4 linked regions of the Homo sapiens genome follow. The protein of the gene in region 1 interacts with the protein of each later gene in a pairwise test. Each region holds a gene or a part of one and is shown on either strand. Other genes may lie near its edges.

What was found.
Region 2: the proteins of PAX6 (region 1) and LONRF1 interact in binary tests that used the Homo sapiens proteins (3 or more experiments, as listed by UniProt).
Region 3: the proteins of PAX6 (region 1) and BCL2L15 interact in binary tests that used the Homo sapiens proteins (3 or more experiments, as listed by UniProt).
Region 4: the proteins of PAX6 (region 1) and SET interact in binary tests that used the Homo sapiens proteins (3 or more experiments, as listed by UniProt).

Annotation. Positions count from the first base shown.
Region 1 is NC_000011.10:31,808,317-31,815,347, forward strand, and holds the start of PAX6 (paired box protein Pax-6), read right to left. Parts: upstream 3,007-7,031; 5' UTR 2,799-3,006; exon of another isoform or gene 2,700-2,798; 5' UTR 2,525-2,699; coding exon of another isoform or gene 2,512-2,524; intron 1,644-2,511; exon of another isoform or gene 1,590-1,643; intron 1-1,589. UniProt on the Homo sapiens protein: Transcription factor with important functions in the development of the eye, nose, central nervous system and pancreas. Required for the differentiation of pancreatic islet alpha cells.
Region 2 is NC_000008.11:12,731,508-12,738,540, forward strand, and holds part of LONRF1 (LON peptidase N-terminal domain and RING finger protein 1), read right to left. Parts: intron 6,638-7,033; coding exon 6,488-6,637; intron 5,854-6,487; coding exon of another isoform or gene 5,765-5,853; intron 5,634-5,764; coding exon 5,393-5,633; intron 5,291-5,392; coding exon 5,194-5,290; intron 3,894-5,193; coding exon 3,779-3,893; intron 351-3,778; coding exon 229-350; intron 1-228.
Region 3 is NC_000001.11:113,884,552-113,891,839, forward strand, and holds the start of BCL2L15 (bcl-2-like protein 15), read right to left. Parts: upstream 3,031-7,288; 5' UTR 2,825-3,030; coding exon 2,698-2,824; intron 2,108-2,697; coding exon 1,986-2,107; intron 1-1,985.
Region 4 is NC_000009.12:128,692,214-128,696,921, reverse strand, and holds the end of SET (protein SET), read right to left. Parts: intron 4,261-4,708; coding exon 4,157-4,260; intron 4,055-4,156; coding exon 3,941-4,054; intron 3,285-3,940; coding exon 3,114-3,284; intron 3,027-3,113; coding exon 2,880-3,026; intron 2,282-2,879; coding exon 2,258-2,281; 3' UTR 526-2,257; downstream 1-525. UniProt on the Homo sapiens protein: Multitasking protein, involved in apoptosis, transcription, nucleosome assembly and histone chaperoning. Isoform 2 anti-apoptotic activity is mediated by inhibition of the GZMA-activated DNase, NME1.

The sequences.
Region 1 (7,031 bases):
TTTTTCTCAGCATTGGGTAAATACTGGCCACAGCAGAGGGTTACTAGTTACCCTTATCTAGGTTGGCTCTCCAATGCTTCCTTCCTGTCTCTCAGTCCCGGCACCCATAGCCATGCCCTGGATAGGCAAAATCTCCAACTCTAATGCAAAATACCCCACCCCAACAAATGCAGGACCCTGAAGCTGCAAAGGAGTAGTAGGTGGGGAGATGGGGAATGGAATTCCCCTAGGAGGGGTAAAACTTCCAGAACTCCACTTTGTAACCCACGCTGTGCACAATCACAACAGAATGCTCCCATCCTGGCTTGTAACTTCTTGATACCATTTTTTTTTAAATTCAGTAGCTGAGCACAAAGAGGCCTCGTTGATTAGTTTTCGAAGCAGCTGGGAAGGTGGTAGTATTTCAAATTCCAGTTCTGCTCCATTCCCACTTCCCTCTCGCTAAGAAGCTATCTAATTACTTAAGTAAACGTGAACACTAAGTGCAGAAGCAACCCGGGAAGTGGGGCACATCGACACCCGGAAGCAGTCCTGTGCACCGGAGAGGTCAGACCCCCAACTGCAGCCTCAGCCCCCCAGCTCAGCCCGAGGCTCTGTACGGCCTCGCTGGGGCCATAGAACCACATCCTGAACGAAGGAGTCTCCAGACATTTTGGAGTCGCCCCAGCCTTGGACCACAAGAGAGTGGTCACTGCCCCCACCTCTCTGTCCCCAACACAAGCCTCAGTTTTCAAATGCTGTTCTTTTTTTAATTACTTAATTCTCAAATTCCATCCCCAAACTCTTTAACTGAGGTAAAGGGGAGAGCTCTCGGTCCTCCCGCCCCCAGCCAAAAGAGTAATTAGCAATTATGATGACAAAGTTTTACTCTCTAGGGCCAAATAAGATAACAACTAATCAAACTGCCTTCACGCTTTTGCAAAGGTCACTGGCTATAAAAAATGTAATGTCAACCGCAACAACTATTATTTCTCTTCAGTAAACTCGCCAGGCTCAAGCTCTTTGCCTTTCATTTCATTTTCTGCTCCCAGCCCCTTCTAAAACCTTCCCAAGTTCGAGTTAAACGTCCAGAATGGCTTAGGGAGCTTGGGAGAGTATAAGAAAAATAAAAAGGAAGAAAGAAAGAAACCACGTTCACTTTGTTTTTAAACTTTCTAGAAATCGCTCATGAATGAAGAGCCAGGTTTTAGCACTCGAAAAAGAAAGCATTTCCACTTGAAATTCAACTCCATTTCCCCCAATTACACTTGCTAAAATTCAGGGCTATTATGGCGCAGGGAGACTGAGAAAATCTGCACAAGGAAAGAGGCAACAACTTTATGAACTTTGAAAAGACACTTTTCCTCCTGGGATCTTAGAATCGAAAGCTCTCAAATTACTCCGACTAATTAGCCGGGAGAAGAAGTGATCAGACGAGGGGGAAGGCCAATGCTTTCATACAGATTTATTTTCAAGGCCTTACCAAGAAAAACATAAGGGGATTCGGAGTAAAACAAACAAAAAAGCAAACCAACTCTGCACCTCAAAACTTGCTGAAATCCCAACACCTGGTGAGACTGGATCAGAGGAAAACAAGGAAAAATACCCACCAAGCGCAGGGGGCCGGAGAACAGGGAAGAGCCCCAGCCTCCGCAAGGCAAGGGAGATGAGAGTCGGGGGAAGCCTGGGGAGCAGAGAGTTTTCAAGTTCCGAGCTCAGCGCTCCAGTGGAGTTGGGGGCAAGAGCCCGGGGGCTGGGTGGAAGCTGACAGTCCTCCCGCTCGGCTCTGAGCTCCCTCGGAGCGCGCGTTCCACCGCCTTGGCCTGGTGGCTTCCTTCCCGGCTCGCGCTAGCTCGCTCTTCCCTCTACCTCCAGCGTGCGGCTGCCTTGCCGACTGACTCCACTCGGGCTGGTGGCGGGCGCGGTGCCCCCCTCGGCGCTCGAGTGCCGGCTGACTCTTCTGCGCCGGAGCCCAGTGCGGCACAAAGCCCGAGGGCCGGCGGGCGGGCGGAGACGCGGCGAGCAGGTTCCCTCGGCGCTCCCTCGGCGAGTCCTCGGAGCGCCCGCTCTCTGCGCGTTCGCTGGGCCTCGGGCTGGACAAAGCAGCCGGCAGCGGTTGCTCTCTGCGGCCGTTCCAGGGCCTTGGGCACCACAGAGCCTCTTCGTCTTTTCCCGCGGGTCGGGAGCATTGGGCGACGCTGGGGCTAGGAGCCGCGGCTGCTGTCGCGCCTGGAGTCTCCCTTCTTCCCGCGAGCTCAGCCCGCGCTGGCGCTGGCGCTGGCGCTGGGGCTGAGCTGGCCGCCCGCCCCGAGCCCTGCGCCGCTCCCGCTCGCCGGCAGTCGCCCTCCGACGCGGGCTTTCGCTGGAAGTAGAAAGTTTGGGCTCCTGCGTGGAAACTTCTCCGGCCCAACTCTCCCGGCGTAGCAGTGGGGGAGGGGACCGGCGAGAGGGGAGGAAGGAAGGGGGGAGGAAGGGGGAGACCTGTCTGAATATTGCAATAAAAATAAAGCGAGAAGAAAGAAGCGGACTCACCTTTATGAGGCATCCTTTCTGGTTGTCACAGCTTCTGTCAAGAGTTTTGTTTGGTTGGGGTTTTTTGTGCTGCTGTTGTTGCTTGAAGACCACAATGGTTTGAAATGACGGTGTTTTAAAGGAGTTGCTGGTGAGAGTTTTCTCCACGGATGTTGCTGGGTTGGTGTGTGAGAGCAATTCTCAGATTCCTGGGAAGGAGACAGAGATTGACAATAAAATGGGCTGTCAGCGGCTGGAGAGTGAGAGATAAAGAGTGTGGGTGAGGGAAGTGGCTGCAGCCAGCACACCTATGCTGATTGGTGATGGCTCAAGTGTGTTAATGTGTGTGTGCCGGCGCCCGGCCTCGCCTCCACCGCTCCTCACTGGCCCATTAGCGAAGCCTGACCTCTGTCATCATCCTCCAGCAAAACACTTCCTCCTGCGCCTGAACCAGAGCGGGAAATGAGGCCGAGCCACGGTTCCCTTTTCAAACCCACTAATCACTCCGCAACATGCAAATGCACCGCTCGCTCTCACACAAAATATTGCTTTATGCAAAGCAGCGCCGGGGCCTCGCGCCAGCCGATTGGATGCTCCCTCTCCCCGCCTGGTGCAATTGGTCCGTTTGTTTGAATATGAATACACTTGTTTTCGGCTCCGCCGGTGGGTCCCGGCTCCTCTCCCCGGCGCAGGGCCCCCGAGCCCGGGCTCTGGCGCTCGCCTGCATCTCCCCGCTCCGCGCACGCCGAGATTCGGCGCGGCCCGCCCTGCTGCCGCGAACTTGAGCGGTCAAGTGAAGGTTTCTGGGTTGGGGGTCGCGCCCCCACTCCCCCTAAGCTGGACTCGGGACTCCCAGTCCTCGGAGGGTGCAAGTTTCTGTGCTGTCCTTTCTTGCCAACTCCAGGACAGCGTGGCCTGCCGCCCCGCCCCCGCCCGCCCCCACCCCATCCCAGCCGGGGCCCCAAGACACAGAGCACAGCGGCGGCCGCACCCCAGCCCACCTGGCCCCTTGGAAGAAGAGGAAAGGGGCGGGAGCGTCACTGGGTCCTGGCAGCTCCATTCCAGCTGCGGAGGCCGCGGCGAAGCCTAGGCCGAGAGGAGGTTGCCGGGCCGAGAACTAAACGAGGCCAGAGGCCTCCCCAGCCCAAGCCTCCAGGGCCTGTCCAAATCCTCCACCCCGCTCTCCCCGCCCTTTCTTCTCTCCTTTCTCCTTTCGGAAGCCGCGGTGCGCAGCGGAGCAGAGGCACAGCTCTGGCTGGAGAGGCCCGAGTAAACACGCCACTTACTTTGTGTACAGAGGGTTCTTGTGAAAAGCCCTGAAGAGTCCTCACCAAACACTCACCAACTTCTCCCACGTGCCATTTGTTGACTAAGTGCGGCTGCTTTTCGCAGCGCCCGAGAGGAGGGGAAGCCAGGGGAGATAAGAGGGGAGGGGGAGTGGAAGCCTGGGTGGGGGGGCGGATGACCAATGCTGGGAGGGATTCTCTCTCTCTCTCTGTGTGTGTGTGTGTGTGTGTGTGTGTGTGTGTGTGTGTCCCACTGGCGATGTCGGTATGTCAGCGTGTGTCGTGTGTGCCACCGGTCATCTGTGTGTGGTGCGTGTGTCTCCGCACCACGACTCCCTCTCCTGGGTCTGCTCAGTCCACGGAGGCAGCTCCCCTTCAGCTGTTGCCAGAAAACCGGGGAGGAAAGTAAGTAAATGGCTTTTCTCTTCTGACCACACACCAGAAGTCCATTTGTTGAATGCCGCACGATTAGGACACACCTCAGTACACTCCAAAGGCGCCCCTCGGAGCCTGCAGTTAAGGTGACAGGAGAGCGAGCGGCTGCCTGGTCCTGCGCTGTCCCGAGCTCTCTCGGCGGCTTCGGGCCACGGAGCCGGGAAGGAGAAGGAAGGCCTGGGCTGCTGTACACACCCCAGGACAGGGCGAGGGGGAATAGGGCTGAAGAGCTGAGGCAGGGAGGCTGAAATGAAGCAGCCGAAGGGTACGCTAGACTCTTCTTGACTTAGGGAAAGTGCTGAAAGTCAGAGCTCATCAATAAAATCTGCGCGACCTGAACTCGCTGCTGACTGGCCGCGTCGCCGCAGCCCCTGGCAGCCGGGACAGTGAGGACGCTGCAAGCCGCCCTGGGCCGCCGGGCCACATGTGGGCCTCACCCTCTCGTTCCTGCCTGGGACCCAGCAGCCCTGCGACCAAGGAGCCCGGGCAGGGCTCCCGGGAAGCAAAGGCCTCCCCGGCCCTAGCCAGAGGTGGGGTCGCATAACCCTCTCCCCTCCCCGGGCTGGGGAGGGCTGCCGGCTCTAACCCTTCCCCGGGAGCTCGCAGCGCCGGGAGGAAACCTGGGTCAGAGGTGAAGGAGGTGGCGCCGGGTGTCCAGGTCCGCGGCCTCCTGGGCGAGGTTTCATTTCGCAGGAGCGCGACTTTCGGAGGATGCCGGCAAGTGGGGCCGCGGCCCTGAGTCCCAGACCAGCGAAAGTCGGCTTTCTCTTTCTCTCTCCTTTTACTTTCCAAGCGAGCATTAAAGAAGCTTGGACTCAAGACTCAAGTCCGCTGTGCATGAGCGAGGGACTTGCGGGGGGGCGGGGGGGGGGGAAGTGATTCTGTCCGAACTGGAGGCGAGTATCATTTTTACAACCTCTCAATTAGCGACCGAGTGGATTAGCACCTTCTTAAGCTTTGCCTCGGAAAGAAGCAGCCGTAATCTTGTTGCTATTTCCCCCCAGGGCACTGGCTCTTTGAATCAGCTCCTTCTCCCACCCCTCCAACCCCCATCTCGCTGCGGAGAAAAGTTTTAACAAAAAATCAGAAAAGGCAAGGAGCGAGGAGTGAATGCCACTGACGTCATTGGGTGGGGAAGGGGGCTCCGGGAAAGACTCCTGGAAACTCCTCCGCACAAACAAAAAACAAAAAGGACTTGGCTGCTTCCCATGTGTCAATATTTGGGGAGGGGAGTTCAACCCCAGAATGAGGCCGAGTTTTCAAAGTTTAAGGAGAGAGGGGTGAGAGTGAGATTTCCTCGTTCTCTCTGGACTGGTCTCAAGGAAGGTGGGGGTGCTGTTCTACCTCGTGGGGAGCCTCACTCCCTCTGCCAAGTACCGGCTCTGGGGGCGAAGCGGCCTAGGGGTGTGGGGGCCGAGACTGAGGTGCGGGCGCGGTTGCCAGAGGTGTGTACAAAACCGAGACAACTCGCAGGTCGCCATTTTAATTGCGGCTACCAACACGCCCGAGGCCCACTTGCTGCCCTCCAAGACGCGGGGGGGCGGCGGGGATTGCGCTTTAGGTTCTGTCTCCTTTCCCCGCCTCCCCACAGGCCCCTGTTCCCCCCTACCCTCCGCCCCCTGTGGCCAGAGGGAGGACCTCTCAGGCCGGCGGGTGCGTTCCCGCGGGGGCCGCCGGGGTCGTCCCACCCGGTAGCGGGGCTGTCTGCGTGGAGGGAGTCCCGCTGGGGGACCGTGGCTCGCCAGAGCCTGCCCAGAGCTTCTAGCCAGTATTGATGCGTCAACATGAGGTGAGGCAAGCATCTCACCCGCACCGATCCCTGGCATTCCCCTGTGCCCACCCCATCAGGCCTTCGGGGAGGCAAAGAAGTGCCCACTTCTGGGGGGAAGTGCCTCCAGCTCCCAGCTTCAGAACCAAGAGCCTCCCATCCGGAGTTCTGACAGTTCTGACACCTCCAAACTCTCTCTTTCCCCGGTCAAGCAGAGGCGCAGCGCCGGCGCGCTGGAAAGGGTGAAGACTGGCATTTTTTGGAGAAGGAAAGTCTTGGCAGACACCTGCGTCACTTTGTAGTGCCCCAAACGTCTCTCTTTTTGCAGACCCTGGGAAGGTGGGATCCCTTGTCCGCGGAGCTGGCAAACGGGTCCAGTGAGCCCTAAAGGCAAAGGCTCCCATCCCGGCCGCCCAGTCCCTGGTGCCTCCCCCACTTCCAGGCCTTTGTCCCTCTCCTTTCTCCAGCAACCTGCCGGTTCCCGCTAACCCGGCAGCCTCGCCGAGCCCAGAGCCTAGAAAAGCCAAGAAGATCCCAGAGCCGCCCCGTGGCACCTTCAGGCTGTGGCCACTGCTCGGCTTGGGGGGAAGCCGCGGTGCCCTCGCCCTTCCTCGCCTCCTGCCAAATGGCCAGTGCTAGGGGCTCCCTGGGTTCAGTCCTCAGTCCTCTTCCGTTCGCTCTGGGAGGCCAGCCTGTCTCTCTCTCTCTCTCTCTCTCTCTCTCTCTCTCTCTCTTTCTCTCTCTGTCTTCTCCCTGCCCACCCCCAAAATACCTTTAAAATAACATTGTCCAGTGGAGTCTCCCAGCAAAGGGATTCCTAGCAGCCCAGCGGGTCAGACTCCCAAGGCTTTGCCTCCCAGTCCCTCCATGCTGTTGTCCAGATAGGAGTTAGGTTTAAAACTCCTGACATGTAGGACAACTGAAATCAGCGGCACTCTCCGATTTTTGCAAATAGGGTTCCTAGAAAAGTTTGCTTTCCATTTCATCACCCTGTGACGATCCCCCCATCTCTCTTTTCCCTGTAACCTCTGCCCCCAAGAGGCAAGAGTTCA
Region 2 (7,033 bases), on another chromosome or scaffold:
CCAAAATACTGCTTCAGCCCACAGAGCTGAGTCAATAACTCCCTATAAAACATCCGGATGTTACCAAGTGAACTTTTATAAGATTCTGTCTGTTGAGGACCACGGAAACAGACCAATACTTCTTGACTAGACTGAGATGAACTAAAGACAGGATCCAGCTTGCGGTGAGGTTTTTCCTTACTATTAAAGGGTAGTAGTTCATAATTTTTTTTATGAGAAGAAACTTACTGTGAGAGTTCAGCAGTTTCTTCATCATATATTTTTTTTCTCTCAGACAGTTCATCAGGCAGATACTTCACTATTAATTCTTCCAACAGCTGTGTGACACAGTACCTCCTATCTGCTAGATACTAAAAGACAATATTATTTTACATTCCAGCAGTGGTTTTCCTACAGTATAAAACAGGCAACACAGTTAACTGATATATTAAAGCCTTTATTACATACTTATACCATCAATTCTGGATTAATTAGTGAGGGGAACATTACAATGGATGATGCTAAGCAAAAAAACCTGTCTGAGGCTTTGCACAAGAGCAGTAAAGATAGTTGGCTGCAACCTGAACCAAGCCCTGTACAGAAGAACTGCTTCCTGCTGTGACCACAGCTTCTCTATTAGCCGCAGAGGGCCCTGCCCTGCCGTCTTCCACAACAGAGGCCCTTTTCCACCTGACAGCTCATGGGCACTAAACTATCATTTTAACTGAGATACAAAAACGGGATAAGGAATAAATAAAATAACACATTTGCCTTATTTAAGAAAAGCAAAACATCTGTTTTGTTCCCAATTTCAGACACAGTCTCTAGATAAATTTTCTTTCAGATTTTTCTTCCATTGTCACCCACTATTGAGTAGAGGAGCAGACCTCAACTCTGTCCTTGAGTGACCCAAGGAAGGTGCGTTTCTTGGGACACTATCACTCAGACCCTTATCAAGATATTGCTTTTCCTGTATGATCCATCTACCCCAGCTCTATATAAAATCTTACATTTGCGCTGACCCCTAAATACTCTGAAAAAGTACTATCCTCATGCATTTTTGTGTTATTCTCTATTCCAACTTACAAAAGCCATCTCTCTCACTCCTGCTTATGCAAAACATGTCTATCCTTCAAGGTCTGACTCCAATTTTACCTTTTTCACAAACTCTTCCTTAATTATTTTTTTCTCTCCCAAGAACCCATATTTTACTGTTTTTACCACATAGTAGGCATTGTAGCGTGTAGTATATGTACACAGATATATTACATCTCTGTAGTTAAACTAAAAATTGCTTAGGGTAGGGCCAGGGACATGGTCAGGGTGTATGCACAGAACTTTGTACAAAGAAAATGCCCAATACATATTTATTTCATAAAATTAGTGAGGAAAACCTCCTGGGAAACTATCACAAGATGAAGCCATCCTTGAATCTGCAGTCAGTAAAAGCAAGGGTTTTGTCATTATCCAATGAAGAGTAGATGGGGAAATGCGAGAGGTTGGGAAACTGGTGGTGGTTTTCAAAGTTTAGCATGAATCGCGGCTTGTTAAAATACAGACTACTGAGCCCCACGCCAGAGTCTCTGAGCATCTGGGGTAGGGTCCAAGAATCTATGTTTCTAACAAGTTGTCAGGTGACAGATGCTGCTGGTCAGGGGAGCATGGGGAGAGGTGGCCTTGGGCAGGTAGTATATACACAGATAATAAGTGTTTATCACAAAATTAATCAAATTAGCTGTCATAAAAGCAATTCCATTATCATTTTCTATTAAGTTAATAAAGATGTTTAAACATCTAGGGAAATACAGCCACTCTTACATTACTGATAAAAATCTCAATAAATGTAACATTTCTGGGGATGAGGCAATCCAACAATTGGTTTTAAGGGCTTCATAAATATATGGCTTTTGATCCAATAATTCACCTCCCAAAAATTTAACCTAAGGAAATGGTTATTGCCTTATTTAAGAAAAGCAAAACATCTGTTTTGTTCCCAATTTCAGACACAGTCTGTAGATAATTTTTCTTTCAAGTTTTTCTTCCATTGTCACCCACTACTGAGTAGAGGAGCAGACCTCAACTCTGTCCTTCAGTGACAGATATATAATATCTGTCATAATATCTTCGATTACATAAAGATGCATAAAATCATTCATTTTAAATGATGTTGGCAAAAGCATAGTATATAAAAAAGAGAACAAGAAACCTTATATATCCAACAACAAAGAAATGTTAAATCACTGGACTATTATGCTGCTATAAAAACAATGTATCTAAAATAGATGGAAATGGAAAAATGAGCAAAATAAAATGACAAGTAGGAAAAATGTAAAACTGAACAGCATACCAATCTTTTTTAAAGTATATGTATTTTGAATTTACAAATTATATTACGCAGGGTATCTTCAAAGTTGGAAACAGGATATTGCTAAATAGTATGTTAGTTATACTTTCAAAAAATATGCTTAGTATATATTTTTCAATCTCCAGACATTTTTTAAAGAGGGAATATCCCTAATCAAAGCAATAGATCTAATATTATGCCAAAAACCACAATTACTTTTGCACCAACCTAACAGTTAATCTGGAAAAACAAGCATCATAGTTATCCTGGGGGGGTATTTAAATGAAGTCTGGAAAAATAGCATGTTTACAGTACTTCATCTAAAAACATTGAGCATATTAGCTAAAAATGTAACTAACAAACTCTTTTAAGAATAAATGTATCTGATGTTTCCTGACTTTGAGAAAATTCTAAATATGCTTTTGTTTTACATATCAGCTTGTTATATATGTAAGACACATATCAAATGTAATAACAGACATGCTATTATGACATCCGTACTGAGTTGTTTTCTATACAGGAAATACTGTATGTATATTCATAATGGTTTTATGAATTTTTCAATTCATATTTGGAAGATACTTTTTTTTAAGCAATCCTGTCAATCACCAGAGACAGAATCACTTTCCCCAATCAACGCTACAAACTGCAATTGCCTCTCAGAATCACAGGCTTTAGCCTGACAGTAGGTGATCTGCAGTCACTCAAGCATGATTAAGAGGGTGCTCTCTTCTCATCAATTAGAGAAGACATCCACTGAGATCTAGCTACTTTCCTATCACAGGTTATTAGCACTGATCACTGACTCTACAAGAAGGGGAATAGGAAGCTGTACCTCCCTCTCTTCTTTCCAATCTACCACTTTTCTAGAGCTGCATTGCCCAATGTCGCAGCCATTAGTCACATGTGCCTACTTAAATTTAAGTTAATAAAATGTAAATATAGTTCCTCAGTGACACTAACCATATTTAAAAGCTTAACAGGCAAACATGGCTAATGGCTAATATATCTGACAGCAAAGATATGGAACATTTCCATCAATGCAGAAAATTCTATTGAACAAAGTTGTTCTAGATGTTGAGGAAGCTGAAACAGTCCTCACATCTGGCTTATTATTGAGGGTTGGAGGCAGGGCAATAGGGTTTCCCCAGTATAGTCATCACCAAAATTGAACTTATCCCTGACCAGATAACTAACCATACCCACTTTTGTTTAAAAAAAAAAAATTAAGTACAAGGGGGTTGGTCTTCAGCATCTGTCTTCTTTCTCCCCATCCTCTTCAACCTCACTTTTCTCCAACATTAGCATATGGGTAATAAAACATTATCCTTGTTAGTCACTCAGAATATAGAATGTAATTCTGAACGTGATCATCACTATTTCTATGGCTGAACAGAAATTAAACCATGCTGCCAAACTTAAGACCAACAAACAGACACATATACAAATATTTACCTCTTTTAAGCTTTCTTTGCAAAGAGGACAATATGGTGCATGATCTAAACAACGCTCAAGACAATTCTTACAGAACGAATGTCCGCAAGGGGTTGTTACTGGCTCAAAAAACAACCTGAAATCAACCAAGATACATGTTAGTTTTCACATTAAACTATCCACTGAAAAGCTTGTACTACTTTAGAACCATAACACTAATCTCTATTTAAAGGAGGAAGAAGGAGGGCCCAGCAGGCAGGAGAGGAGAGAAAGGGCAGTGATAAGTGTAACCATACCCTCCAGAATGTTTTAAAATTCTCCATCAACAAAGGCCTCCTGCCAAAGGCCTAGAGCCAAGGGCCTAGAGCTGTCCTGACTAACGCAACAGCCCCTGGACACTATGGCTACTAATCACTTGAAATGTGGCTAGTACAAGCTGATATGTGCACTGAATGTAAAATACATACCAGATTTCAAAGACTTTCTGCAAAATAAATAATGTAAAATACATCATTAAAAATCATTAGTTAGCTTTTGTATAGCCTTTAGATTCCCATTTTAATATCAACTTAAAAATGATTCCTTAATAGGTTTATAAGACCCTTATGATATAAAACTCATAAAAAGAATGACCTAATAAATAATGCAGTTGAATCCTAATGTTAGACTTAATACTAAATGTATTATTCAAACATTACAGAACAACTAGTTTTACTTATTTTCTGAAACATGATAGTTTTGAATTTGCTAGAAATAGATTTAGAGGTACTTTAGGGACTGTTTAGTATAATCCCCTCACTTCACAGATGAAGAAACCAAGGCTCAGAATTAAGACTTGCTCAGGAATGTAACTGCTACCAGCCTAGTGTGACCAGCACTAGGCCTCCTGACCCCGTATGAATCTTTTGATCCTACACAATTCATGTAAATGAGAAATGTTATTTCAAAACATTTAGTCTTTTAGAATTATAGCATTCTGAATAATGGAAATCCTTATCCTTATGTTACTTTAAAAAGACTTTATGGTTAATATACATTAATAAGATAGGATCATATACATAAAATACTAATTAGAATTCATACCCAAATTTAAAACCATGGAGATAGGTAAGTTTCAAAAATAATATCATCTATAACTTTCTTAGTACTTTACAATTTCCCAGATTCCTTTTATACTGAAGCCATGTGATTCTCACAACAATGAGATGTAGGCCATGCAAAGCTTGATCCCACTTTCTAAATTAGGAAACCTGAGGTTCAGAGATTCAGTTATTTGCCCAAGGCATGAAAGGTAAACCCAGGACTAAAATTCATGTCTTTTGATTTTTATTCCAGCATTGTGTTACTTTACATTGTCTATTATTACCTTTATCTACACGGTATTTTATGTATACTAACATAAAATATTCATCTTCTATAAAGTTTTATATGCTTACCTCATGCAGAGAGAACACTCGAAATCTGAGACATCGATTAATTCTTCTGGAATATCACCATAAGCTAAGGAAAACATACAGACTTCATTGGGAGTTTCTATTAAAACAAAGACATGGGGTTTTCTTCCTTAGGAAAAACTTTAAAGACTATTCTGACTAAATAAATTTATTTTATATAAGTGTAGAGCAAAATTTTTACCTCCTTGTTTTTTCAGCTTATTTCTTCCATCTTCATTTACAATCACATCCTGTTCTAAAAGAGACAACTTTCTTTTCAGCAGAACACCTTTTTCTTGAACTGACAGAACAGGTTCTGAGGACACTCTTTTTAAACAGTCCTCTCTGGCAGGCATTTCTGTTGAATTTATAGACTGTGCTGACTGAGCACGGTTTAAGCTTCCTTTGACAGGCTCTGAAGTGACCTCTGGTATTTCTTCACTCTACAAAAATACAATAAACAAAGGTAACTGTATTTCTTTACTATCCTTTATTCCTCTCACCAAGAATCAAACTGAAATGAAATTTCAATGCCTTATAATGCTCATTTTAATGTTCATTTAATAGCACTAACTTGATTCCAACACTGTGACAAGTAAATGATTTTTGCCAGCACAGTTGGCCCTCCGTATCCACAGGCTCTGCATCCGTGGGTTCATCCAACTGGGGATAGAAAATATTCTAAAAAAAAGCCTGAACATATATCGACTTTTTTCTTGTCATTATTCCCTAGACAATACAGTATAACAACTATTTACATAGTATTTACATTGTATTAGGTATTATAAGTAACCTAGAGATGATTTAAGTATACAGGAGGATGTGCATAAGTTATATGCAAATACTGTGCCATTTTATTAATATATCAGGGACTTGAGCATCCTTGGATTTGCTATCTGTGAGAGGTCCTGGAACCAATCTCCCACAGATACAAGGGATGACTGTACTTACACAGCCCTAGAAATCAAGGTGACTTATGTTATAATGAGGTTTAAAAGTAGTTATGCTATAACACAGCTGTTACTACCCTGAGGAAACATAAATGCAATGTTCTATACATATTTTTAAAGAACTAAAAGTTTTCTTTCACGGGACCTAAAATTGTGATTCATTAGCAAATATTTTACATAAAAGATTTTAGTGTAAAGTAAAGGCTATGGAAAAAATTCTACTATGATAACTAACCAGGTTAAAAGTACTTAAGTAGGTGCTAGTACTTGAAACTAGGAAAGTGAAGCTCTTAACTCGTAAAGAAATGGATACGCTAAACTCATGATAACCTTGTCTCACCCCGTACCTGCTTTGGGCTAGGTTCATTGAGAGACTGAGACTCTTCCATCACTGAATGAAAATCAAAAGGTCTGTTTTTAGTACATGGTAATGAACTCCAGGAAGATTCCTTCAGGCCTTCTTTTAAGTTTTCAGGTAATAATAAATCACATAAAATCTGTAAGAGAAATATTAAAAGTAGTAGAAAATATAAAATATTTGGTTAAGGATAATTTTGTATAAATTTACCTAATAAAGAATATGTAGAAAGTTTGTAGCAGACATTTTTTTAATGAGCAGGAGGGGAACAAGGTAAGCAACACTGTAAGTTCAAAAGTCTTGCAAAATTAGGTGTGCCTCATGGGGTCAAATCACCCGCAAACAAATGATTCAAAACTTTGAAAGGAAAGCATGGGAGTAGTAAGACTCAGGATAAAGGCTGATCTTTCAACACAAAGACTATAAAAAGATCTTAAAAGACATATTAAATATTTATCTCTGAATCTTAGTGAGCCCTATGCTATCAAAATAGTTCATGGTTCACCTCAATGTATATTTACGAAGTTGGCCTTGG
Region 3 (7,288 bases), on another chromosome or scaffold:
TCCTGGTTTTGATGGTTAGATTGTGGTTACATTACAGAATGTTCTTGTTTGAGGGAAGTATAAAAGTATTAGGGGTTGATGAAATATGTCAACTCCTTACTGTCAAATGATTCAAGAGAGAAATTATTTGTACTATCCTTGCAACCTTTCCCTGAGTTTAGGGCTGTTTCAAAATATATTTTTTTTTATTAAAACAAGTTCAAGTCAAATTATTTATTTATTTATTTATGTTTTTTTTTTGGAGACAGAGTCTTGCTCTGTCGCCCAGATTGGAGTACAATGGCACCATCTCGGCTCACTGCAAACTCCCCCTCCCTGTCAAGCAATTCTCCTGTCTCAGCCTCCCAGGTAGCTAGGATTACAGTTGTGTGCCACCATGCCTGGCTAATTTTTGTATTTGTATTTATTTATTTATTTTGAGAGAGGGTCTCGCTCTGTTGCCCAGGTTGGAGTGCAGTGGCGAGATCTCAGTTCACTGCAACCTCCTTCTGCCTCCTGGGTTCAAGCAATTCTCCTACCTCAGCCTCCCGAGTAGCTGGGATTACAGGTGTGTGCCACCATGCCCAACTAATTTTTGTATTATTAGTAGAGATGGGGTTTCACTATGTTGGCCAGGCTGGTCTCAAACTCCTGGCCTCAAGCAGTCCGCCCCTCTCGGCCTCCCAAAGTGCTGGGATTACAGGCATGAGCCACAGCACCCAGCCAAAAAAAAAAATATGTTTAATGAGAAAAAAAGTCAACTCAGCTATCAACTACCTAGGACAGCCTCAGGGCAAGCAACTGGGAGTAACAGGTCCAGCTCTGCCTGAACATAGTGTAGGCACACTGCCCAAGCTGTGTATAGTAGGACGAATAAAGCATAACGGTTAAGAGGGTGGTTCTTTTTTTGAGACAGAGTCTTGCTCTGTCGCCAAGGCTGGAGAACAGTGGTGTGATCTTGGCTCGCTGCAACCTCCACCTCCCGGGTTCAAGCGATTCTCCTGCCTCAGTCTCTCAAGTAGCTGGGATTACAGGCATGGGCCATCACACCCAGCTAAGTTTTGTATTTTTGGTAGAGACAGGGATTCTCCATGTTGGCCAGGCTGGTGTTGAACTCCTCACATCAAGTGATCCGCCCGGCTAATTTTTGTATTTTTAGGTAGAGACGGGGTTTCACCATTTTGGCCATGCTGGTCTGGAACTCCTGACCTCAGGTGATCCGCCCAGATGGGCCAGGCGCGGTGGCTCACCCCTGTAGTCCCAGGTACTTGGGAGGCTGAGGCAGGAGAATTGCTTGAACCCGGTGGGTGGAGGTTGCAGTGAGCCGAGATCGCGCCACTGCACTCCAGCCTGGGTGTGACAGAGTGAGACTCCATCTCAAAAAAAAAAAGCATAGGCTGGGTGTGGTAGCTCACGCCTATAATCCCAGCACTTTGGGAGGCCGAGGTGAGTGGATCACCTGAGCTTAGGCATTCAAGACCAGCCCGGGCAACATGGCAAAAACCCATCTTTACTAAAAATAAAAAAATAAAAAAAATAGATGGGCATGGTAGCACTTGCCTGAAGTCCCAGCTACTCAGGAGGCTGCAGTGGGAGGATCGCTTGAGCCCAGGAGGTGGAGGCTGCAGTGAGCTGAGATCACACCACTGCACTTGAGCCTGGGTGACACAGTAAGACCCTGTCTGAAAAAAAAAAAAAAAAAAAAGATACTATACTTTGCCAAGAATAAAGTGTTATAAATGTGCTCTGTGCACACTAAGCACAACAGCTGTGATGAAGACCAAGTAGAGACAAACTGAAGGTTCATCAGCCTATGCCCAAAATTTTCCATCTCTGTACCACTTAGGTTTTAGCAATTGGAGAATTCTTGCTATACTTCCTTGAAATATAAGCACCCAAATATTTTCATAGAACATTCCTAGTCACTGTAGTATGGGAGTAGTAAGAAAAGGAAGTTTGAAATAGAAAAAAAAGCAGCAAACAATAGCATGAAGTAGAAACTTGACCTGTCCCTTAATGGTTTCTGCAATGACGTTTTTGGCAGAAGCTTCCAATTCTCCGTTGAACTGGTCACCCAACATCCGAAGGCGACCAGCAATGATAGCCACATCAAAAGAACAAGGCTCTCCTATGACAGAGGGAACACATTTGTTACAATGCTTGAAGCAATGGCAAGTCCCAGGAATCTGGGCAATGAGAAAAATTTGTCTTGTCTTTTAAATAATTTTCATATCATGATCTCCCAAGAGCTTAAATGTTCTGTCAACACCAATAGTCAGAAAGTTTCCCTTCATTGAGAACCTCTTTCGCTTTAGGTGTTACTGAAAGCTTAGAGTTTGCCTTTTGAAACTTAAAGGAAATAAATAAAATATACTGTTTTTTTTTTTTTGAGACCGAGTCTCTGTCGCCCAGACTGGAGTGCAGTGGCGTGATCTCAGCTCACTGCAACCTCCGCCTCCCAGGTTCAAGCAATTCTCATGCCTCAGTCTCCCATGTAGCTGGGACTGCAGGCATGAGCCACCACACCTGGCTAATTTTTCTACTTTTAGTAGAGATGGGGTTTCACCACGTTGGCCAGGCGGATCTCAAACCCCTGACTTCAGGTGATCCACCCACCTTGGCCTCCCAAAGTGCTGGGATTACGGGAATCAGTCACTGCGCCCGGCTGAAAACATACTCTTATTGACCTGCAATCACCGCCTAGGGCAGGAACCTTACCTGAATCTACTTCATCTACACAGCATAGGTTCCGGCTGGCAACCTGCAATGTTGGGCTCAAGAAGTCCATGAGTAGAGTGTTCACAATGCATTCCGTTTGTTCCTCAAAAGTTTGGGAGCTCTTCATTTTAGATGTTTGCTGTCAAGTTTTGCTTTTCCACGAAACAAGCAGTTTTCAGCCCAGCAGGAAGTTAAAAACACTGGTAAATCAACAAATGTTTCTACCTCTTGTAGTTTCCTGACATGTAATCCTGGAACTTTTCCCACTAGCTTTCTTCAAACACAGCTGCTCAGAAAGGTGGGACTTCTCAGAAGGATTACCTACTTGGAACTGGGGAGACTTTAAAGACTTTAGGTTCTCTATCTCAGACCACACCCTAACCACATAAAATTAATGCTTAACTTTTATCGTTAGGTAGCCAACCTAGAACTGAAATAGAGTTCAGGAAGAGCCTCTGGAGTAATTTTATTAAGAAATACTTCCTCGACTTCTTAGGTCCTGCACATGGTATAATTTGAAGGAAGGTTTTGAAGTTACAGTGGACCAGCGTTCAACTTCTGTTTATGGAATTTATTTGCCATAATCATATAATAATTACTTACTGAACAAGGAACTATAGTTGGCACTACAAGTAACATAGAAAAATGATACAGGCACAGTTACTGTGCTCATGAAGCTTACACTTCAGCAGAAATGACAGATATTAAATGAGTAATCGCATTGTTATTTGTGCTATTGAGATCAGTGCACTTTGATCAGTGAAGTGTAACAGGGAATCAAGCCTTTGATCAGTTTAATAGGGAAACAAACCTAGGGGACTGGGAAGGCTTCCTTAAAATAGTACCATCTGACATGAGCTCTGAGGAATAAGTAGGCATTCATTATGCAAAAAGGAGGCATAACACTATTCTAGGCGGAGAGGTAGCAGATATAAAGTCTGGGAAGGTTAAAAAAAAACAACTTGGAATTATAAATGGGGACAACAGAAAATATTTCATAGATAAATTATGAGGATTAAATAAGATAACATGCGGAATGGCCTAGCACTGTTTGGCATACAATAAATGTTAAATGTCCTCCTTTTAGCCCAAGACATAATGACCAGGAGGAAAGAGATCTGAGATTCTCTGTCTAGCAAAAGGATTTTCCTAACAGGGTTGGACTCCATCATTGTTTTAAGAGATCTCATGATTGGACACTTATCTGTAGTGGTTGCCTTCTTAACGTAGCTAAACCTAGATTTTGGGTCTGGGTCTCAGAAGCAGCCATCAAACCTATCAGCAAACTTACCACTCAACCTGTCTGACCTGGTGAAGTTATTAATATTAACAGCTCCAACTAATAAAAGAGTCAAGCATAGGCCGGGCATGGTGGCTCATACCTGTAATCCCAGCACTTTTGGGAGGCTGAGGCGGGCAGATAACCGGAGGTCAGGAGTTCACGACCAGCCTGGCCAACATGGCAAAACCCATCTCTACTAAAAAATACAAAAATGAACTGGGCGTGGTGGTGCATGCCTGTAATCCCAGCTACTAAGGAGGCTGAGGCATGAGAATCGCTTGAACCTGGGAGGCGGAGGTTGCGATGAGTCGATATTACGCCACTGCACTCCAGCCTGGGTGACAGAGCAAGACTCTGTCTCCAAAAAAAAAAAAAACAAAAAAAGATTCAAGCATAAACAGTAAGTCAGTTGTTCAGAATGGAATTTCTATCTTGCAAAATATCAAAGCCAATCTTGTGTTTTCTGTTCCATTCTAAAACACATACAACCACTGCACACCTATTAAAATGGCCAAAATCCAGAACACTGGCAAAACCAAATGCTGGTGAGGATGTGGGTCAGGAACTGTCATTCATTGCTGGTAGGAATGCAAAATGGTACAGCCACTTTGGAAGAGTTTAGCAGTTTCTCACAAAACTAAACATCCTCTTACCATATGATTTAGCAATTATACTCCTTGGTATCTACCCAAAGGAGCTGAAAACTTATCTACACAAAAACTTGCACATGGTTGTTTATAGCAGCTTTATTCATAACTGCCCAAACTTGGAAGCAACCAATATGTCCTTCAGTAGGTAAATGAATAAATAAACTGTGATACATACAGACAATAGACATTATTTAGTGCTAAAAAGAAATGAGCTGGCTGGGCGCGGTGGCTCACGCCTGTAATTCCAGCTACTCAGGAGGCTGAGGCAGGAGAATTGCTTGAACCTGGGAGGCGGAGTTTGCAGTGAGCTGAGAGGGCACCATGGCACTCCAACCTGGGTGACAGAGCAAGACTGTGTCTCAAAAAAAAAGATCAGGCCATGAAAAGATGAGGAGGAATTTGGGTGGTAATTGGACTTTGGGTAATAATTGATGAGGTAAGTTCATCAGTTACAACAAATTGTACCACTTTGATTGAGGATGTTGATAACAGAGAAGACTATGCTTGTGTTGGGGCAGAGGGTATATGGGAAATCTCTGTACCTTTGTTTCAATTTTGCTTTGAACCTAAAACTGCTCTTAAAAAGTCTTAATTTTTAAAAATGATCATAAATTGCTTTTGGAGTAAGAACACAAATTATGTTCCCATGTAGCTAAAGTGCTATTTTCATTTGTCATTATCTGTCGCTCATTCTCTCTAGAGGCAAAAGGGCTGAAACCTCATTATTACTAAGTAGGCTTCAGACTTTTAACATCAGAAGGGCGGGCACTCAGAGAAAATTCTAGGCTAACCTCCTTTCACATTAGAGCTAGCCACTGACAGTTGAAGGATTCTAAAAAATACATTTGTGACATACTCCCAAAACAATATATAAAAAATAAAAATATTTATGAGACCATCCAGCTGGTATTAAATAGCTTGCCCAAGTTCACACATCAGTAAGTGGCAGAATATAAATTTTAAACCAAGTCTGTCTTACATTAAACTCAAGCTTTTCCCACAGTAATAAACCACGTTCCTCATTTCACTATCAATACGCTTATGCCATCTTTGAAATCGAATTTTGAGTCCAGGGGTGGTAGCACGCACCTATAGTCCCAGCTACTCAGGAGGCTGAAGCAGGAGGATCACTTGAGCCCAGATCAAGGCTTCACTGAGCCATGATCACACCACTGCACTCCAGCCTGGATGACAAAATGAGACTCTGTCTCAAAAAAAAAAAAAAAAAAAAAAATCTAATTTCAACTCCTTTGCATTGTCTTGTATAATCAATGTTGTAAAGCTATAGAAACAGAGTACAGGCTGTCATTAGCAATGTGGAGTAAATTTTTTCCAAGTTTGTTTACTTCTTCTGGGCCTTCAATATAGCACCCTCCAAAACTATCCCTTTCCCTCAGCCCACATACCTTCACCCTTGCAGTTGTAATATTGTGCTCTTAATTATTACTGAAAAATCACGAGGCCAGAATTTTTTCACCGTCACTTGTTTCTCTTGCCACCCTCTGACCACAACAAATTACATCCCTCCCCAAAATGCTTTGTCTCATATCATTGGCTTAAAGTCCAGGATCTTGTCATCTGTACCAGATGTGCATGTGGATGAAGATCCTTGAGTGTAACTCCTCTCAACATGGAGACTTGTAACTAAGAAAACAAGTAATGTGTCCCCTCTCCCCTAAACATCCCATATCTAAGAAAGGAATAGAATACTTTTAACAGAACGCCTGTTCAAAAATAGGGGTAATGGAAACACATCACAGTCACTGATTCATAACTATAAAATGATGGTAATATGCAAATTATTGCCTCTGCAGTGTTCCAAAACACTATTGTCTTTGTGGAACCTCATTACATACGTAACATACTGTTTACCTGTCAACTAAGAATGACATTAGATGGCTGCTGTTCTAAGAGCACAGTATAGACTACCTTCATGGATTGTAAAATATAAACATCTACTTATATCACATCATCAAACCCCATGTCTGCAGAAGCTATACAGAGTTCCTAGCAGGGGAAATATTAAAGAATTAACTTCATAGTATACCTGAGCTTTAGTCATTTTGCTTATAAATTAGTAAAACCAGGCTACAGGAGAAATCAGTTCTTCATTGAGATAATCTTAAAAGTATATTTTCCAAAAGCAACAATTTCATATTCTATGTATTCCTCTTACATTATAGAAAAGCAACCAAGTAGAACATAGTCTTCTAAAAGCTCCAATAGTTGGGATCACTTTAGTATTATTATTTATTCAGTTGCTTAGTCATACCTAATTTTCTTTAGATCAACATTTCAGTTATAGTCTTTAATTTTAAAAAGTCAATAAGTTTACTCAATTTCTACCACCTGCATCCTGTTCCCTTGCTACGCCTTTTTTTTTTTTTTTTTTTTTTGAGATGGAGTCTCACTCCGCCACCTGGGCTGGAGTGCAGTGGCACAATCTCGGCTCACTGCAGCCTCCGCCTCCCAAGTTCAAGCGATTCTCCTGCCTCAGCCTCTCGAGTAGCTGGGATTACAGGTACCCGCCACTACACCCAGCTAATTCTTTGTATTTTTAGTGGAGACGGGGTTTCACCATGTTGGCCGGCTGGTCTCAAACTCCTCAACTTGTGATCCACCCGCCTCAGCCTCCCAAAGTGCTGTGATTGCAAGCGTG
Region 4 (4,708 bases), on another chromosome or scaffold:
TGGCTGCCTGAAACCACAGGAGTATCAAGCCCCATACAATTTTTCCTGTACCTGCCTATAAAACTTAATTTCCAAATTAAGCACAGTAAGAGATTAACGGTATAGGATAATTTTGACTATTGTATACTATAACTATACATTCACACATTTAACATACAGTATAGGTGTGAATGTAGTCTCAAAGTATCTGAATTGTAGTTGACCACATGTAGCTGAAGCTGCAGATAACAGGACCCACTGTACTCAATTTTCTTCCTAGTGAAAAGTCCTTTTGAGACTTCAGAATGAAAATGCTATACTCACCCTCTCAGAAACTGTTTACTCAGAAACTGTATCCAAGTAAGATATTTGAATTTGTCCTTTACTCGGACACCGACCAGCTCAAAGCTTTCTAAACCAATGTCATACCATTAGCGCTAACCCACGCTTCCCCAGTCACTAACGATGTGAAGACAAAAAACTAGAACAATTTCTGAATCCAATAGCAAGTAACATTTCTCTATAAAACAAGGAGAATGACCCCAGTCCAAAAAAAATCTTTATGTTCCTTTATTGGAGCAAGATTCCTGATCGGTATACAGTGATGTATTTACTAAACAGAGACCTGTGCAGAAATTACATACTATCCATCTAGATAGGTTGTTACACTTTTGCCTATTGATGGAATAGTTCCATTTATCAAGTTTTATACATCAAAAAGCTTTTGAAGTTCACCAGACTGTCCATTAATTCACCTCTGAAAAAGTGGCATTTAATTTCAGCGACTATATTTTACAGCATTAAAAAGCTTATGCATTAGGGTGCTTCTCTGCACAATGGCATTGAGCAGACAGAGCTGAGTCCATTATCCCACCCAGATTCACATGGTCACATTTGAGAGCTTTATACCAGAAAGCAGGGACAGTTACTGCTCACCATCAGACTTCTTACTGAGAGCCTATCTTCTTGGCCACATTTTATATAGCCAATGAAGACATGCCAGCAACTGTCCCGTGTATAACTTGGCATTAGAGCACCAGGTCTGTTGGATGGTGGTGGCAGGCACAATTAATTTATATCCAGGTAAAAGGCCAATTTTAAAAACTGCCACTTGGAGATAAAAATCAAGGGCACAATGTACTCAGAGAGTATTGAGCTATCTGGTATCCCAAATGATGTGAATACTTTCAGAAACCAATGGCAAATTGAACCCACGTTTCCCAGCTATGGAGATATTAATACATTGATTCAAATCCCATTACTCAATCCACATAGCCCTGAGGTCATCCTGCAAAGTGCGTATCAAAAAATACGAAGTTAGGGTGACAAAGTTTGACAGTGATGTTATACAAGTCAAACTTGGAAGGTCATAGTAAGCATACCTATGCTGAGAGAAAAGCATCAAATCCTTTGTGTACACATTTAGTTTTATTGTAACAAAGCAACTTGTACACTTTTAACGTTTAAAACTGAGCATCATCTTTCCTTTCCAGTGAAACAAAAAGAAAATTTAAAAATAAACAGGAACAAAATTACAATAGAGAATGTCAATTCCAAATAAGATCCTACAGGTTCTGCTGATTCTCCCATTGAGTGGCAGGGCTCAAGTCATCATTAGGAGAGAATTTATTTTAAAAGTGTCATCTTAAACTGCAAGGATGTCTGTCAAATATCACAATTAAACATGCCAAAGGAGAAGCCATGTTGTCAAAATGCCCACTTAACCCACCCAAACATCTCAAACCCACCCTTTGCTGACCTTCTATAACCCCATTTTTTTAAGTTTTTTTTTCTTTTTTTAAACAAGAGAAAGTAGACAGATACATGTTGGTAAATGCTAACTGTCCATATTCACATAGAGACACAGTGTACTCTCTGAGCCCAATATACAGAGAAAGGAGGAAAAAAGCTAGAATTCTATGCACTACTACACAGGGGCCTAGCACCCTCCAGCTTCCAGCAGAGCGAAGGGAGCAGGTTTTTCTTTTTTCCCACAGAGCTCGGTGGTGTTGATTCCATACAGTTTTTGTTCAGACAGGAAGGGATAAAAATGAACTTCGAACAGAAAGGGGTAGAGACTCTTTTCCCATTGTATTCTGCTCAAGGTATTTCCCCCCAAATAAATTGAGAACCATGGAGTAGAGAAAAGAGACCTCAAGAACAGGGCGACTGAGCACAAGAGGGAAAAAAAAAAAAAAAAAAAAAAAAGACTGCAACTTGCTCCCAGGGACTGGAGAAAATTTAAAAAAAGGAAGGTTGGAATCCATCAGTGTTCTATTTAGTCATCTTCTCCTTCATCCTCCTGAAAGAAAAAGTGGGCAGTTAATCTTCAGGATTAATGCTGAGACTTGCTTTCATATGGACCACAATGGACCCCACGAGTGCCCCTGGGGGCACTCCAGTTTCTAAACCTGTAAGTCAGCTGCATCGAAGGAAACACCCGTGATGATGTTGCTTCAGATTAATTAGTAACTTCAGTTCTAACCAAATCAGGTATATTTCGGATCAAATAATCCGAAATAAAACCAACCTATCCTAATTTGACTATTCAGAAATTGTGCAGTTTGTCGAAAATACATGAAACTTTGTTATTTCAGAGATGTCAGAATTTGACCAGCTACACTGCCTATATTGCCTAAGTACTGGCTAGGGAAAAACAAGCTTGGGTGGTGATAAGTCTAACCAAAAAAACCCAAAAAAAAACCAAAAAAAACCTAGTTAAACATTAGTACCATGTGCTTATCAAACATTTCCTTAATTCTTGAACAACAAAATGGCTTACTTTTTTTCCACAATCAGTTCTGGTCAGTTCTACCACACTATATATATATATATACACCCCAAAATAACATGAATTCTTTAAAAGTTATCTTTGTGGGTTTAGCCAAATTTTCTTTTACCTCTCCTTCCTCCCCTTCATCATCATCTTCATCTTCTTCACCTTCATCCTCATCCCCTTCTTCGTCAATATCTTCTAATCCTTCCTCCTCTTCATCATCATCATCATCTTCTTCTCCTTCTCCTTCTTCATCATCCATATCGGGAACCTTAAAAAAAAAAAAGCACAATATAAGGACTCATTTTTAAACAACCGAGACAAGTCCAACCTTGAATAAATGAGTATTAGAACTCACCAAGTAGTACTGTAATGGGTTTGGCCAAATATCATCTTTGATGACCTCTCCTAACTCATCAGCACCTGCATCAGAATGGTCAGTAAACCAGGTAAAGAAGCTCTCTGGTTCCTCATGCTGCCTCTTCCTGCTGGCTTTATTCTGCGTTTGACTCGAACGTTTCGTCAAATCCTAAATGAATACCGGAAGAGCTTTTGATACAATCTCTCCATAACACCCAAACTCCCTATAATTTAAAAAATAAGATTTTCCCCAAAAGCTAAGCAAAACAAATATCAGTATACTATCTACGCTACCATTATTACCTAAGAGCAATTATAAAACTGTGCAGCAGGTAGAGGTAGTATCAACTACATTTGGTTTTCCATAAAATTAGTTCCACTGTTAACAGCCACTAGCACAACACAGTATAAATATCTAAACTATGTCTTACTACCTAAATACGGATGTAAATGATTTTGAGAAATGGCAAGCCATTTGAAGAGCTCAGTCACCACTGCAGAAAACAACAGCAACAAAAAATTTAGTCCAGTTCTCAATTCTTAAACTTGGGCTAGATTTTTCTCTTTTTTTTTGTTTTTTGGAAGGTAAGGGTCTATGTTGCCCAGGGTAAACTCCTAGGCTCAAGAGATCTTCCTGCCTACATCTGTAGTATCTAATGAGAACCCTAAACTACTGTAATACTTGGCTTCAGCACACTGGAACGTTTTATATTTTAAGGTTTTGTATTTAGCCACATGACCAAAGTATCAAGCACTTGTAAGTGGTTAAAACTAAACTGAAATAGGCAAAATGCTATTTTTGTCAAATAATTCCTCAAAACATACCTTTCCAGATTTCCATTTGATTTCGGTGGACTTCGAAGATGGATCACCACTCTCATTCAGATGAAATTCTTTGGAGAGAACTTTATTTTCAAAGTAAGGATTTTCATCAAAATACTGTAATAAATAATTGAAAGATTAGAAATATGAACAGGTCTTCCAACCAAAGCTCACATTAATTTCCACAGTGGCAAACAAGATTAAGTTAGAGATACTTACAAAATCTATTCTGTAACCTGATTTAATATCTTCAAATTCTGTCACTTCAACTCTGGTCAAATAATGCAGTGCCTCTTCATCTTCCTCCCCAAGCAGTGCAGACACTAGGCCAGAAAATTACAGGTCAGCTGAATTTTCAACAGGCACACACTAACAACAATTTAAGTGATCCCTTTAAAATTTTTCCGAACTTAGTGAGCATCTTTGGTTTTATAAACCCATTATTAACTAAAGGCAATTGCTCAATATCAGACTGTCACTATCTTTCATCAAGCAATTAGAATATAGCTTCTCCTAAACAGAATAGAAAGCAGTAGCTGTATATCTTTTCCCGTCTTTGAGGTTTTTTTTTTTTTTTTTTTTTTTTTGAAACAGTCTCACTCTTGTCGCCCAGGCTGGAATGCAAAAGCGCACAATCTCGGCTCACTGCAACCTCCCCCTCCTGGGTTCAAGCGATTCTCCTGCCTCAGCCTCCCAAGTAGCGAGTAGCTGGGATTACAAGCGCGCGCCACCACGCCCAGCTAATTTTTTTTGTATTTTTAGTAGAGACGG